Linked DNA regions of Homo sapiens: region 2 is linked to region 1. The links come from fine-mapping of genetic effects on gene expression. Tissue or cell type: whole blood. Region 1 holds a variant in brackets; the other region holds the start of a gene. All regions are shown on one strand. Distances are from middle to middle.

The links. PIP is the estimated chance that this variant, and not a neighbour inherited with it, causes the effect.
Region 2: GTF3C5 starts here. The variant in region 1 is fine-mapped to the expression of GTF3C5 in whole blood (TOPMed, PIP above 0.99).

What each region holds. Positions count from the first base shown.
Region 1 is chr9:133,050,956-133,059,040 of GRCh38, reverse strand. GTF3C5 (general transcription factor IIIC subunit 5) reads right to left here. Exons shown (of 11, transcript NM_012087.4): 4 at 8,063-8,085; 5 at 6,877-6,981; 6 at 5,099-5,213; 7 at 4,553-4,633; 8 at 4,232-4,329; 9 at 2,947-3,029; 10 at 2,133-2,275; 11 at 538-1,227. The coding sequence ends at 1,061. It overlaps LOC124902325, which reads left to right. Exons shown (of 2, transcript XM_047424377.1): 2 at 867-960. The coding sequence ends at 960. MIR6877 (microRNA 6877) reads right to left here and starts at 7,045; the gene lies at 6,982-7,045. The variant C/T (reference allele first, on the strand shown) is at 3,680.
Region 2 is chr9:133,026,526-133,034,608 of GRCh38, reverse strand. GTF3C5 (general transcription factor IIIC subunit 5) reads right to left here and starts at 3,612. Exons shown (of 11, transcript NM_012087.4): 1 at 3,445-3,612. The coding sequence starts at 3,597. It overlaps LOC105376306 (a long non-coding RNA gene), which reads left to right and starts at 4,187. Exons shown (of 2, transcript NR_135119.1): 1 at 4,187-4,459; 2 at 6,178-6,457. RefSeq lists enhancers at 3,592-3,851, 3,296-3,947, 4,182-4,431.

The sequences.
Region 1 (8,085 bases):
TCTGGCTGAGCCTCCACCTGTCCCCAGGAAATACAGGGGAGAGAGGAGCAGGTTCAGCACCACACAGAAGCAACCAGCCAATCCAGAACAGGGCCATTCTCTGACAACTGACTGTTTCTTCAACAAATACTCGGCACGCACACAGGTTGGGAGGGAGTGCTGCTGCCGACTTGGGGAGACACAAGAGGTGCCTCAGCCAAGGGCAACATGGGGAGCGGGGCCAGGCAGGCAGGCTCGGTGGGCTCAGGACCCACTAGTTTCACACTGGGCAGCCACAGGACAGCAGGGCCCGTTTCCCATGACTTTGTCAAGAAGGTATTCATTTAGAGAAGAACTGACCCCAGGCCTGGAGTCCTCCTAGCTGCCCTCACCCAACCCGACCACATGTGAGGGGGGCACAGGCCAGCACTGCCAGCATGTCACTGAATGAATGAAGGAATGAATGAAGGAATATATGAAGGGACAAAGGGGGCCCAAGCCCCAAGGCAATAAGAAGACTCCCCTGCAGCGCCAACATTCACACCAAGAAACCAAGACTTCTCGGGAAACTGGTTTAATAAGGACAATTCCAGAGGGGCCTGGCTGTGGCCAAAGCTGTGCCAAACGGTTGGGATCCAGAGCTAAAGGCACTTCTTGCCACGTGAGACCATGGGCGAGGCTCCCCACGCTATCTCCACCACCACAGTCATGAGAGCCAAGCGAGACTGGCCTGTGGCCTGGGGCTCCACAGCTGCCCAGCTCCACCTCCGGCATTTACTGGTCTCATCCTGAGAGGCATTGGGTGCCCACTCACTGGCTGGATGCTGGGCTGGTTCATGGGTGGCAGAGCCAGGGTATACCCTTTGGGGATGTCCCTAACCCCTCAGGACCAGAGGCAGCACCAAGCAGCATGTCACAGCCAGTGCTAGGGTCAGCTGCACCCTTTGCTGGGACTCTAGCTCTCCTCAGAGGGCCTCCTAGGGCCATTCCGGGCACTGTGGGTGGCAATGGGGAGCCCCGGCTCCCTCATTAGGCCAGACACCAGTCTGGCCGGGTCAGGGAGGCCCAGCCTTGGGCCCTGTCACACGTAGTCCAGAATCTCTGTCTCCATTTCGTTTTCACTGCCGTCGGATGGCTTGAAGTCCTCCTCCTCCTCTTCCTCCTCCTCCTCATCCTCCTCGTCTTCCCCAGACTCGTACGTCAGCTGCTCTTTTCCGCCATCAGCCTTGGCTGAGCTGGAAAAGAGAGCTGGGGCCGGAGGAGACAAGGCCATGGGTGTCCCATGCAGGCTGCCGGGTGGCCCCAGAAAGGCCACCAGGCTCTGGGGAGCCTGTTTACTACTATAAGGGTCCGAGCTCGAGCTCTTAAGAAGCTGGTGGGTAAGTATGGGGTGGAGGCCCCCCAGGGAAGCTGTAGTTTGACGGGCACCCAGGGGAATCCTGCAGCAGGGGAGCCATGAGCAGCTTCAAGGGCCCATGGACCCTCAGGAGTGAACACACCATTTTCTCTGGGAAAGGGTCCACACCCTTGATTAGATTCCCAAAGGGGGCTGAATCTGGGTTCCAAGCAAGACCAAGAACCCCTGCTTCGGTCAGATCTGTGGGGCGTGGCTGGGTCCAGGATGCCTCCTCCCCAAGCCTGGGAGGAGTTCCCTGAGAGAGGGGGCCTCTTATAACTCCCCCGAGCCTCGTGAGACCCACAGCCTGGCAGGTGTTGCCCCCTTCACTTTCCCTGCAGCTGGCCCTCACTCCTGCCAGGGCTGCCTGGTTCCAGGAAGGGGCTGGGCCACACAGAACAGGAAGAAGACAGAGGCAGAGCCTGCGCATGCACAGCTGAAAGACATGGGCTGGTGTGAGGGCGTCAGGTGGAGGCCCCGATGGCAGTGCCAGGCTGCTGCACCCAGCCCCTCTGGGCTTGTCTCCTGCCCCGGACCGCAGGGCTGAGGGCCTCGGCTGAGGCAGCCTCTGGGCAGCTGGGGTGATGCCAGCACCTGGGCTGGGCTCTGGCTCACAATGTCCTCCTCCCACCAGGGCCAGGGGCAAGATGATGCCACCTGGGTGCCATTTCCCAGGAATGGGTCCCCTTAGGGACACCTCTGTCTCAAAGGAGATCACCAGGCATCCTGGACCCCCTTTACCCCAAGCGGCTCTTACCAGGCCTCTTGGAGCGGATGGTCTGCCGGATCATGAGGGACATGGTGTCCCTGAGCTCGTCGCTGGTCTTGGGGAGGCACCACCCATCCCGTTCTGTGCAGGAATTCTCTGCCCCGTCATTGCGGTGAATGATCTTCTGCAACCTGGGGGTGGGGAGAGGGTTGGGACATAAAGTCCCAGGGCGGGTCTCTGCTAAGAGATGCCAGTGTTGGTTTTTGCCAGAGGCAGAGCTGTACTGAGATCAAAGGCAGCCCCGTGAGCGAAGTCTACAGAGAGGAACTGGAAACACAAGCTGTGTGTTCCCAGCTGGGGCCCTAAACCTGTGTGCTCCCTGGACCGCCTCACACACATGAAGCTGGCCGTGTTACCACTGCACATGCTTCTGGTGAACCATGGCTTTCAGCAGAGTTCAAGATGTATTTGATGTGTTCCCATCTCCTCTCATCCCAGTGAGTGCCCTTTCCCTGCAATTCTTTAAACATCACTGAGAACAAGTCGATAAAAGGTTTCTGGGATCTGATGGGTCCTGGGATTGAGAACCACCTCATGGGGCCTTTATGTGGACAGTGGAAGAGGAGCAAGGACATAACAGTAAGAACTGTCTCTGCGCAGCTTGGAGCCACGGCTTTCTATAGGGCACCGCCTCTACGAGGGCCACCAGCATGCCAGGGCTCTCGGCAGCACCAAACTCCCAGACAGGCGAGTGCTCTTGCCGGAGATGAAGGCCGACGTGAAGTGGAAGAGTTCAGAGACCGCTTTGGTCCCTGGGTCCCACGGGCCCCCCTCAGTGTCTCAGGGCCCCTCCCATACGTACTCTTCCACATTCAAGTCGCATAACTGGTAGAACATCTGCCGATAGGGTGGCAAGGCCCCTTCCCGGAAGATGTAGACAGAGTCCTGGTGACAAAGGGGGAGAGAGACAGGGAAGGTGAGCCAGAGCCCTGGGGCTGCCAGTGTTGCAGACTCCATGTAGGCTCCCATGGGGTCTCTCCAGGGAGCTGGCTGGTCACCAGGAGCAGGTTGGGCAGACAGGCTGGAAGGCCACGGAGGAGTTGGGGAAAAAACAATGTCCAACTCCCCAGGAGGCTCTGGGAGAGGCAGAGGAGCACCCAGGCCCTCCTGGGGCCACTGGAAACGGTGAGCCCGCCCGTGCAGCAGGCCATGGCGCCCATGGCATGGGGCTGGCACTAGCCTTGTGCCGGGCTCTGCTCTCTGTGCCCTCCTGCACTCTGACCTTATCCCTCACCCACTGCTGCTAATTTGTCACCCTATGTCCCCCTATGGGCTGCCCTGACATCTTTTCTGGGAAAAGCAGGGCTTAGTGAGTGTTTGCTCTCTCCTTTCCGTACCCAGCCATGTAGTTCTAGAGTAAGGATAACGGCCTCCTAGGAGAGGCCTCGAGAAGGAAGGCCGCACAGGCTGTGGCATGATCGCCCCTCACTGGGAAGGCAGCAAAGGTCTAAAAAACCTAGAAAATAGGCAGGGCCCCAGACACTGGGGGACAGCAAGTCCCTCGCATCACCCGTCTCTGCTGCACTCATCTCTGC[C/T]ACCCACTCCCTCAGCAGGTGATTCCACCGTGCGGGATGCCCCCTTCTCGGCCTCCCCCAGGGCTGTGGAGCGGCTTGCGGGAGCCTGAATGTGGGAACAGCTCTGGAAACCGCCAACCCCCGCTGGGCAACCGCACTGACGGAAACGTGAGCCAGTGAGGCTCCTGCCACAGCTGCAGCCCACATGGCCTGCTCTGGCTCTGTCCTCCTGTGTGTGCCCAATTCCGATCATTCCCGGAGTGGTCACGTGGCTCAGTGGGGGCCCAGGCTCCCAAAGGGCTCGAGAAGGACAACCACATGCAGCTGCTGGTGCCAGACTTCCCTGAGACTTGTCACCACCTCTTCGCCAGATGTCCCCAACACACACAGCCCTGGGGCTTTGCACCCGAGTTCTCACCCTCAGTGTCTGAAGGCTGACCTAAAAGGAAGCAAGGTGCCGAGGCCCCGGTGGGCAGAGCTGCCCTAATCACAGCCCCCCAGGTGTCACCCACAAGGTGCCCGGCCCCAAGAGGGAAGTCCTCCCCTCCATTCCTGGCCTCCAGGGGCGCCCACCTTGAGCTTGTACTTGCTGGAAGCTGGTTTCCGAGCACCACTCGTCCCCGACGGGCCCAGGCCCTGCTTCAGGTCATGCATGGTGACAAGCTGGCTGGCTGCGTGGGGACAACAGCAGTGCTTGGAATGTGCAGGGTGGGGAGGAGGTGTCTCTCCCAACCACCATGCCCTGCCCTCCTGCCAGCCCACCCCCTCCTAGGGGAGGAATGACCGGCAGAGCCCTGGAGTGACCCCCAGGAACCACCTCCCCGTCTGGGTCCAGGTGCCCCGCCTTCCTTGGCAAATCACTCATGACCCACAAAAGGCGCCTGGCACGCTTACATGTCTTCTTGACGGTGATGGGGAGGCTGTAGTTGTAGGTGCTGCGCTTTGCTTTGACCGGCAAGTCACTGGGGGCGTAACCTGTAGGCGAGGGCGGGCAAGTCAGGTGGGCGGGCACAGGGCCCGTCGGCACACAACACTGGCTTCACACTGGAGATGGGAGTTGGGTCCATGGGGCCAGCTCCTGAGAGGGCAACCCCAGACTGCCAAGCACGCCACTGCGGTCACCAACACATCTCAGCACTTCCCAGGCAGGGCGGGCACTGATGCTCTCACAAGTGCCTGGCCTGCATCACAGGACCATAGGGCACGTGGAGTCACTTAATGAGGGACTGTGGTTCAGAAACGGGCGGTCAGTGGTGGGGCCAGCACAGAACTAGGACTTTCGTTTCCACGCCATTCTGCATTCAAAAGAGTCTCAGCAACGGGGGCAAAAGGTTTTTTTATTCTTTCCAAATGAAAAGATTCTTACTACAAAAGAGAATGCTAGAAACTGAAAGATAAAGAGAGAGAAAGGCAGGAAGCAAAGCTTTCAGGAATTTTTACCGTGTTTCATTCCACAACGGATTCGGAAATCGAGGACTTGATAAATCTTGGCATCTGGGTTTTTTCGGGGGTCATACCCAAATCGAATCCATAGGCTGCGCCAGGGGCCTGTTATCTGGGACAGAAAAGTGGGGAAAATGTGAGGTGAGGTGAAGGCCCAGGTCCCTGGACGGGCCAGAGCCTACAGTGAGGCAGCAGAAGAGCTCAGGAGCTGGGGACAGGGCTCTGGATGCCCAGCCCTGCTCTGCCACATGCAGGCCCTGTCACCTTGGTGAGGGCACGTGGCCTTTCCAAACCTTGGTCTTCCTGTCAGATGGAGGGAAAAGGAGCACCCTTTCCTGTGGGTTTTTGTTTTTTGGGGGAGAGGGTCTCACTCTGTTGCCCAGGCTGAGTGCAGTGGCAAAATCACGGTTCACTGCAGCCTCAACCTCCTGGGCTCAAGTGATCCTCCTACCTCAGCCTCCCAAGTAGCTGGAACTACAGGCACGAGCCACCACACCCAGCTAATTTTTAATTTTTTTGTAGAGATGGGGTCTCATTATGTTGCCTAGGCTCGTCTCAAACTCCTGGATGCAAGCGATTCTCCCGCTTCAGCCTCCCGAAGTACCGGGATTCTAGGAGTGAGCCATCATGCCTGGCCTCCCATGGTTTTTCAGAGGATTAAATGAGATAGCGCCCGTGGAGCCTTTACCATGGTTCCTGGCACATATTAAGTGCCCAATGTTACTACTGGCCTAATCGATGAGACATCTTCTGTCCCTAAACGGAGCTTTTGAATGGCTTATGTCTAAAAAGCCAATGCCAGCCAGCCGCAGTGGCTCTCGCCTATAATCCCAGCATTTTGGGAGACCGAGACAGGCAGATCACTTGAGGTTAGGAGTTCGAGACCAGCCTGACCAACATGGCGAAACCCCATCTCTACTAAAAATGCAAAAAAAGAAAATTAGCTGGGCATGGTGGCGTGCGCCTGTACTCCCAGCTACTTAGGAGGCTGAGGCAGGAGAATCACTTGAATCCCAGAGGCGGAGGTTGCAGTGAGCAGAGATCACACCACTGCACTCCAGCCTGGGAGACAGAGTGAGACTCCATCTCAAAATAAATAAAATAAATAAAATAAAATAAAATGCCAACGCCAAGCAGCACAGGTCGCTCTCCTGAGCCGGAAGTCCAACAAGGCAGAAGAAATGAGTCTTTCTTGTGTCCTACTGCCTGTTGCAGACCCTCACAGTCATGTCTTACGCTGGCCTCCCCTAATGCTCTGTGAGGCCTGGCAGCGGGGAGGATCCCTTTCCAACCAGCACCTTTGGAACCTCAGTAATGACATGTGTCTTTACATGCTTGTGGATCAAAGGTGGATCTGCCTCCCACTGAACCCCACTCAACACAGGTAGAGGACGACATGGGGCCGCTGTGGTCAGGGGCTGGGTTCTGCAGCCCAACAGGCTGTGGAGGGCGCCCTGGACTCAGGGAGCTGAAACTTTTCTAGCTGGCTTTAATAAGCTGTCTTAGGGATGCTAGGATCGGGGGGCCAGGACAGGGGGGAAGGAAGGATGGGGGTGCCAGGACGGGGGAGGTGCTAGGTTGGGGGCAGGGCAGGAAGGATGAGGGCCAGGCCAGGGGTGGGTAGGAAGGATGGGCCAGGATGGGGGTGGGGCAGGAAGGATGGGGAGCCAGGATAGGGGGTTGGCTGCTCTTACTGTGGCTCTAAGACATCACAGCAGGGACCAGGGACCACATGGGTGGAAACCAAGGCAGGTGGGTGGGCAGCTGACACTTACCATGTAATAGGCTATGAAGGGAAGCAAGACCTTGAGCTTGTCTGGGTGGACGCTGATGTTGGCCTTGACAGCATTTCGGGACCAGATGGGACGGATGTCAAACAGCTGGGGAGGCCAAGGGCAGAGGCTGAGATGAGCACCAGCAGCTTCCACCCTTCGGCCCTGAACTCCCAACATGTTCTGGGCCCCAGCGGCCCCTCCAGAGAGGAGCTGGTAGAGGACAGGGGCTGGACACACAGGGCGTGGCCCTAGGACCTCCTGCTCTCACTAATTCATCCCTTCCCTCAGAAGCCTGGGCTGCATGCCCAGCCTGTGCCAAGTGCAGTTGTGGGGCTGGGTCTCTCAAACGATAAGAGACATGGTCGCTGTCCTCATAGAGCCCACAGCGCGGTGGGGAGTACGGCTCAGGGGGCACATGCTAGAGTCCCAGGGTCCCCATGCTGCCCCAATCTACAGAACAGGTGCCTGAGGTGGGACATCGTCAGGGCTGAAGGGGACAGCCTGGCCCGGGGAGGACTGCAAAGGTCAGTGTGGCCGGAGTGTAGAGGGCCAGGGGGCTGGGGCAGCGGGCCTCACGAGCCAATTCAGGTCAGGAATGTGGGCTGTGCCTGGTGGGCAATAAGGAGCCACTGACAGTGTGCCCCAGTGACTGCTGGAAATCAACAAGACATCCACGTGGTCTCCCACAGGCACACTGCGTAAGGGAAGCGCCGGGCTCCAGGTGGCAGTGGCCTGTGAACCTGATGCTCATGCCAGTGGGGACGCAGGACTCCACGGCACCCGCAAGCCCGGGGAAGGAGGGCTGCCTGGCAGCACGGTTCCAGTTCTAACGGTAAGAAAGTGCTGGGCCTGGCACACTAGGTGCCCCACTGGCTTGGCTGCAATGAGTGAATGGAAGAATAAGAGCTCAGTGGATCCCAGAGCTCCACGTTTATGTCACATCTGAACAACGCACGCATATTTTTCTTAAGAACTCTAAGAAGCATTTTCAACCTTGGGAATGTAGAACTTATACCGACACAGCCTTTAGACATGGCATCTGAAGGTGAGAAGTTCCCATGCACTAAGGAATGGGTAAAGGTCAGTGCAGCCAACCCCACAGCCAGGAACAGGGAGCAGCTGGGTAAACACGGGAAGCCAACAGAGAGGCTGGAGCCACCGGGGCCAGGCGCAGCGCAGGACTTGCCTTCCTCAGCTCCTCCTCCACCT
Region 2 (8,083 bases), 24 kb after region 1:
GGGATGGGCACACTACACGCCAGGTGAAAGGAGTAATGTCCACAGACAGGGAAAAATGGGCTGTCACCCCGGGACCCACCCCTACCAAACTAACCCTAAAAAGGGCTTAATAATCACTTGTCTATTTTTCCTTTTCTTTCCAACATAAGGTCATCTTGTCATCAATGTGACTCAGGCTAACCATCCCTTGACCCTTCAGTTCGACACTTGTTCTTACCCCGTGCAGATACGAACAAGCTCAAAGGCAGCTATCCGATGTAGTTAAGTATCCATGTCCATATCGCAGACAGTCAAACAAGTATAAGTATGGAGCCTTAAAGGGCCCCTGTGGTGACTGGGCAAATGTTTGGTGGACCAGTCAATATGGGAGGCGGACAGCCAACCCCCCTCCTTTAAATAAGTTGCGGAAACTCAAACAAAAACTCTAACTTATCCATCGCTCCACTCCACCAAATTGTAAGCCACTGCGGTGTAACCCCTTATTGCTAATTATAGATAATCCCCAAACAATGGCCCAAGAACCCTCTGTATTCGGACGGTACGGGTTAGGAGCAGATGTTACAGGACGGGATCCCATAGGAACCCTCTCTAAGGTTGACTGGACCATCGGCGGTTAAAAACAATGAAGAAACCCAGACCCAGAGTCCAGGGAACGTATGGGACCCAACGCTCTCCCCAAACATATCAGGCCCAGTGTTCCCCTCCGGTCTCCACAACGACCCAGCCAAAGTAGCAGCTGTAGAAGTAAGAGACCTAAAGCAAACTCTAGCAATTGAAACAGGGTACTGAGATGCAAACGCCTGGATGGAATGGATTAAATATTCTGTCCGCACTTTAAACAAAAGTGATTGTTACACTTGTGCACACAGTAGACCAGAAGCCCAGACTGTCCCCTTTCCACTTGGATGGTCCTCCAGACGAGTGGGCATGGGCTGTACGGTAGCTCTTTTCCAGGACCCCACAGCCTGGGGTGATAAATCGTGCCGAGCTCTCTCTCTGCTGTTCCCTGAGGTTCAACACCCTGCGGGTCAGCCCCTGAGGGCTATCCAGCTTCTGTCTCCCAGTGCCAATTTTACTTTGTGTCTCTTGTGACAGGGAAAATTTGGCATTCCTTGGGGACCTAACAGGATGCAGTGAGCTTAAGCCCTTCCAAGAGCTTACCCATGAATCTGCCCCTAGTCATTTATCCTGAGCAGATGTATGGTGGCATTGTGGTGGACCGTAACTGGATACTCTGCCAAGTAACTGGAGCGGTACCTGTGCTCTGATCCAATTGGCCATCCCTTTCACTCTGGCATTTCATCAACCAGAAGAAGTAAAAACAAGACACCGTAGAGTAAGAGATGCCCCCCGTGGTTCCTTTGACCCTCGTGTTTATACAGATGCCACTGGAGTTCCCCGAGGGGTACCTGATGAATTTAAGGCTTGTAATCAAATAGCTGCGGGATTTGAGTCTATGTTTTTCTGGTGGTTAACTATAAATAAAAATGTAGATTGGATAAGTTACATCTATTACAACCAGCAACAATTTGTTAATTATACTAGGAATGCTATCAAAGGAACAGCTGAACAACTAGGACCCACCAGTCAAATGGCTTGGGAAAATAGAATAGCATTAGAAATGATACTAGCAGAGAGGGGTGGCGTTTGTGTCATGCTTGGAACCCAATGTTGTACTTTTATCCCAAATAATACTGTTCCTGACGGAACCATAACAAAGGCACTGCAAGGTCTTACTGCTTTATCCAATGAGCTAGCTTAAAATTCTGGGATAAACGATCTCTTCACTGATCTAACGGGAAGATTGTTCGGCAGGTGGAAAGGACTTATGTCCTCGATCCTTATGTCCCTTGCCATTGTAATAAACGTGTTTATTCTCGTAGGATGTTGTATCATACCCTGTGCCTGAGGGTTAATACAAAGACTTACGGAGACAGCTCTCACTAACCTCCAATTTCCCCCCGCCTTATTCAGACAAACTTCTACTTTTAGAAAACCAAGAACAGCAAAGTCGAGACATGCTAAAAAGGTTTGAAGAGAAAGAAGTATGAAAATCAAGAGGGGGAAACTGTTCTATACAGTGAATTCTTCTTCAAAGGTTCAGCTTGTTCAACTCCCTTGTTCTTTGTTCTCCATCTTCAAAGTCTAACTTCCTTGTTCTTTGTGCCTCCTTGCCCTTAGTTACCCGCTCTGTTTAACTGCCCTTCCCGCCGAAACTAGTCTTCCCACCGAAATCGCTCGTCCCGTCACTGTAACCCACACCCCTGTTCTATTTAAAATAGCCAATTGAGATTAGCTTAGATTGTGTGGTCCAACTCCAACCAGCAGGGACAGGACACAAAAACAGGGACTGACTGCCTTAGGGATAAAAACCCATTCCAGGCTGGGCACGGTGGCTCACGCCTATAATCCCAGCACTTTGGGAGGCCAAGACGGGTGGATCACCTGAGCTCAGGAGTTCAAGACCAGCCTATAGGACACAGTAAATTCCACTTCAAAGATTTTAGCCTTTTACCTTCCTTTAAATTCAAGAGGGGGAAAATTAATAAATACAATGAGTTATGAGTTCCATTTCAAAGAACCAATATGTCAGTATGTTCAGCTTCCCTGTTCTTTGTTCTCCATTTTAAAGTTTAACCCCTCGTTCTTTACGCCTCCTTGCCCCTAGTTTCAGTAAACAACCCCTTCCTAGCTTCTATCACCTGCTCTGTCCTTAGTCATCCTGAGTCACCTGCTCTGTAACCATCCTTCCCACCAAAACTACTCACCCCGCCACTCAGGCCTGTGCCCCTGCCCTCTTTGAAATAACCAATCGGAATTAGCTTAGACTGTGCGGTCCAACCCTAGCCAATATGGGAAAGACACAGCAGTAGAGACTAGCTGTGTAAGAGATAGGAACCCCTTCCCCTTCCTTGTCGGTGTGCTCTCGCCATTGCTCCATCCGCAAGATGCACCCTTCTATAGAAGGAAATTTGCCTTGCTGAGAAAACTGTTTGCCAGAGTGCTGATTCTTCTTTGCGGCACCCAAAATTTATTTCCAACAAGCCTGACCAACATGGTGAAACCCCCTCTCTACTAAAAAATACAAATTTAGCCGGGCGTGGTGGCATGCGCCTGTAATCCCAGCTACTCTGGAGGCTGAGGCAGGAGAATCGCTTGAACCCTGGAGGCGGAGGTTGCAGTGAGCCAAAATCGCACCACCGCACACCAGCCTGGGAAACAAGAGCGAAACTCCGCCTGAAAAACCAACAAAAAAACAAAAACAAAAACAAAAATCCTTCCCTTCTTTGTTCTGTTGGCTCTCTTGCAGCGGCCAGAAGAGCGAGCAGCACCCTTCTGCGTAAGTAAATTTGCTAAATTTCCCTTGCTGAGAAATCCTTTGAGTGCTCGTTTTCTTTGCGACTCCGAGCTCTTATTCCAACACCGAGATTCCCAGCCCCTTACCCGGGAGACGCCTTCCTCGCCGCCCAGAGTCGGCAGCATCTTAGCCACATCACGCACCACTCCCGGGTACTCCACGCACACCATGCGTCGCTCCCGCCTCAGCTCCACGGGGACGGCGGCCCCCAGCCCCAAATCGGCCGCCTCCGCCGCCATCCCTGTGCGTCTGGCAGGGCCCGCCAGGGTCCGTCCCACAAAGTACTCCCAAAGGCCTCGCCTCAATTGTTCCGCGAAGGAATCGTTCCGGGCTCCCTCACCGCTCGCGTCATCCTAACTCCCCGGGCTCAGCAAGACGCGAGGGCCTCCAGGGAGCAAATGGCCCATGGGAGGGCCCATGTCTTCGGGAAAACGACCGCCGTGTCCTCGACTTTTTATTTAAAATTAAGCGAGTTAGTCCACCGGGCGGGGCAAGCACCAGTCTCTCCTACTAGCCAGCGAGGGACCCGGAGGATAATAAGACACAAACCTCCCTCGACTTCAGCCAATGAGAATCCGAGGGCCGAGCGAGTTTTTTTTTGAGCCAATGAGAAGTCCGGAGGAAGCTAGGTCCCACCTTCTCCTCCAGCTTCGTACGTTTTAACCAATAAAGAACTAGAGTTAACCACGTCCCAGCCCTCTTCTGGGTATTCCACCCAATGACACCTCGGGGGCGGGCCAGAGGCAGACTTCCGGCCCGCCTGCTTGGTGGGGAAAAGGTCCCGGCTGAGAATTGATTTCCGCATTGGGTCGGCCTGGTATTCTGTCGGTGTTGGCGCTTCTTCTCCCAAGCTCTTGCAGCCCCCTCGGGACTAGGTTTCCAACGGCGCTTGCGGGGGGCCTCGCGGAGGTGGATGTGGAAAAGGCGAGCGCGGGGGAACTGTGCTGTAACCATCGCCCCGCCTCCACAGAAAGCCCCGAAGCGCCGGCTCGGGGCCGAACGCGGGCATCCGGCGTTCGTCTGTTAGGCAGGCAGACATTAAGCGCCTACTGTGTGCTGGGCCCTACTCAAGACCCAGGCGGGGAGAACGGCGTCTGTCCGGTAGGCGCCCAGGGCTGCTGCAAAGCCCCGGAGCGAGGAGTGTGGCCCCTCAAACAGGGAGGAGATGAGGTCCGAGGCCGACCGAGGTCAGAGACCCGCACCCACGAAAAGGGTCCACCCGTCGGGCTGGCTGCTTCCCAGTGCCGTGGAGAGCCCCTGAAGGTTTCTTTTTTTGAGAAGGAATCTCGCTGTGTCGCCCAGGCTAGAATGCAGTGGCGCTTTCTCGGCTCACTGCAACCTCCGCCTCGGGTTCAAGCTATTCTCGTGCCTCAGCCTCCCGAATAGCTGGGATTACAGGCGCCTGCCACCATGCCCGGTTAATTTTTGTATTTTTAGTAGAGACGAGGTTTCACCATGTTGGCCAGGCTGGTCTTGAACTCTTGACCTCAAATGATCCGCCTGCTTCGGCCTCCCCAAGTCCTGGGATTACAGGCGTGAGCCACCGCGCCTGGCCCCTTGAAGGGTTTTATGCGGAGCAGTGATCCCATTCATGCATTTGAAAGACCTCTCTGGCTGTTGTGTGGAGAACAGATCAAAGGGGGAGAAAGTGAGTTCAGATAAACCAGCTCCGAGACTGCATAATCCAGTCAAGAGATGAAGGGACTGGGTTTGAGAATATTGGGAGATGAGAATCATGGCCCAGCACAGTGGCTCACGCCTGTAATCCCAGCACTTTGGGAGGCTGAGGCGGGAGGATCAGTTGAGCCCAGCAGTTGGAGGCCAGCCTGGGCAACAGGGGAAGACCCCATTTCTACCAAAAAATACAAAATTAGCCGGCCATGGTGGTGCATGCCACAGTAGTCCCAACTACTCAAAAGGCTGAGGCAGGAGGATCCTTTGAGCCCTGGAGTTGGAGGCTGCAGTGAGCTATGATCATGCCACTTGCATTACAGCTAGAAATTAGTAAGAGCAAGTGACCCCTTGGGTATGGGTACCCCGTTTCTGAAGTGATTTTTTTTTTTGAAAGACACGATCTCCCTCTGTCACCCAGGCTGGAGTGTAGTGGTGTGATCATGGCTCACTGCAGCCCCGAACTCCTGGGCTCAAGTGATCCTCCTGCCTCAGCCTCCTGAGTAGTTGGGACTACAGGCGTGCACCACCATACCCGACTAATTTTGTATTTGTGTGTGTGTGGCGACGGGGTCTCACTATGTTGCCTAAAGTCATTTCTTTTTGTTGTTTGTTTGTTTTGAGACAGAGCCTCACTCTGTCACCAGGCTGGAATGCAGTAGCACAATCTCGGCTCACTGCAACCTCCGACTCCCTGGTATAAGCGATTCTCCTGCCTCAAACTCCCGGGTAGCTGGGATTATAGGCATGCGCCACCACGCCCAGCTAATTTTTGTATTTTTAGTAGAGATGGGGTTTCACCATGTTGGCCAGGATGGTCTCGATCTCCTGACATCATGATCTGCCCACCTCGGCCTCCCAAAATGCTGAGATTACAGGCGTGAGCCACCGTGCCCAGCCTGTGATTTCTTAATCAGAAGAGTACCTGATTGCTCTCCTTGGGTTTAAGAAGGCAGAATAAATAGCTACATGAATTCAGCCCACTGAATACATTCTAAAGTGTAACCTCAATGTGAAATATATTGTATTGTAATTGGAAGGCTGGGTCAGGAGCCCCAAAGCTTTGAAAGAACACCTCCTGAGAGTACAGTGGGAAATCAACCACCAGCAGATGATGGTTGAGCTAGAAGAACCACGTGTTTCCACAGGGAGCTGCACACGAGGACCCGGTGGTCCCTGACCTGCCCTCTCCAGGGGGGACCTGCACTTTCTGCCACCAAAGAGGATTCTCTGTAGGGAGGCCAGGATGATTCTCCAGAATTTACCATGCCTTGAGATGAAATTTCCTTTCAAACTTCCTTGTGTCCTTTTGTCCTCATTCCATGTTCACCAGTCTTCTGACTGTTTCATTTTCCAGAAAGGAGAAACTGAATAACATGTATATTTTAACCTTGCCTGCAATTGTAAATCAATAAATTGGTGTATTTACATCAGATCCCTGTGAGTTTGGTGCACATAAGACAGTCATGAAGACTTGGTCACTGTTGGTAGAGTTGGCCAATAAAATATTGAACACAGTTAAATTTGAATTCATGCAATATTTGGGGCATATTTATACTAAATATGTGTTATCTGAGATTCATATTTAGCTAGGTGATTTTTTAATTTGCTAAATATGGCACTCCCACCTCCGGGTATTGAGATTGAGTTTCTGAATTTGGAAAGCTGATTCCAAACCACCTGGAACCTTAGTGAGCCCACCATGCAATCCAGTGACCCTCTAGTTTGTCTGCTGTATTTTTCCTCCTTACTGAAGCAAGAGTGATCTTTCCAGAATGAGATCGCAGTCTGTCCCTGCCTCCAGTGACTCCCCAGCATCCCTGGCCCACCACCTGGCTAACTACTCCTCTCCTTTAGGTTGTTGCCTTAGACTTCAATTTGCCTGGTAAATCCTCCCTGACCCCAAAACACTAGTTTGGTGCCATCCTCGCTGCCCGGGGCCCCAAACCCACTGCATCATGGAGCCGGAAGCACTATTATTTTTTTTCTTTTTTACTTCTCCACTTGAGTGGCAACTTTCTGAAGACAGGGACCATGTCTGTCTTATTCACCACTGTCTTCCCACTGTCACCACTGCTTTGCATGGGGCTGAGCACCGAGCAGGTGCTCAGGAAGTATTTATTGAACAACTGAATGAGGCCACTTGTCTTATTTGAGCCTTCAATCGAGCCCCGGGTCAGGGCATGGTCATAGGGACACTAAATCAAGGCTTGTCAGACAAGGAGTGTCCCTTAGTGCACAGGAAGTGAGGAGGGGCTGAGTGTGAGGGGAAGACAAGGGACCAACCCCAGGGCATCAGACCAAGCTTTTTGAGATTAGACTTGGTCCTGCCTGAGATCCAAAGCGGGAGGTCAGAGGCAGGAGCAGTAAGGCAAGGCTGGGAGCAGAGACAGGCCAAGAAAGATCAGGAACCCAGTTAAAAAGTAGCTTTGGCTGGGAGCGGTGGCTCATGCCTGTAATCCCAGCACTTTGGGAGGCTAAGGCGGGTGGATCACTTGAGGTCAGGAGTTCGAGACCAGCCTGGCCAACATAGTGAAACCCCATCTCTACTAAAAATACAAAAATTAGCCACATGTGGTAGCACATGCCTGTAATCTCAGCTACTCGGGAGGCTGAGGCAGGAGTCTCGCTTGATCCCAGGAGGCAGAGGTTGCAGTGTGCAGAGATCATGCCACTGCACTCCAGCCTGAGTGACAGAGTGAGACTCCATCTCAAAAAAAAAAAAAAAAAAAAAAAAAGAAGTAGCTTTAACGTTCTCCAAAACCTTGCAGCATTCAGAGCAGGCAGCTGTGACAATATTTGTGCACTGAGGGGACACTTTCTCTGCCTGGATTCAGGGCATATGCTATGGTTTGAAAATGTCCCCCAAATTTCATGTGTTGGAAACTTAATTTGTCTGCCCTCATGAATAAATTAATGTTGGCTCTGCCCTCATGCATGGATTAATGTCGCTGTTGTGGGAGTGAGTTGCTTATCTCTTTGTTATAGAGGCAAGCTCTCTCCGGCTCTCTCTCTCCTGCCCTCTTGCATATGTGCCCTCCACCATGTTATGGC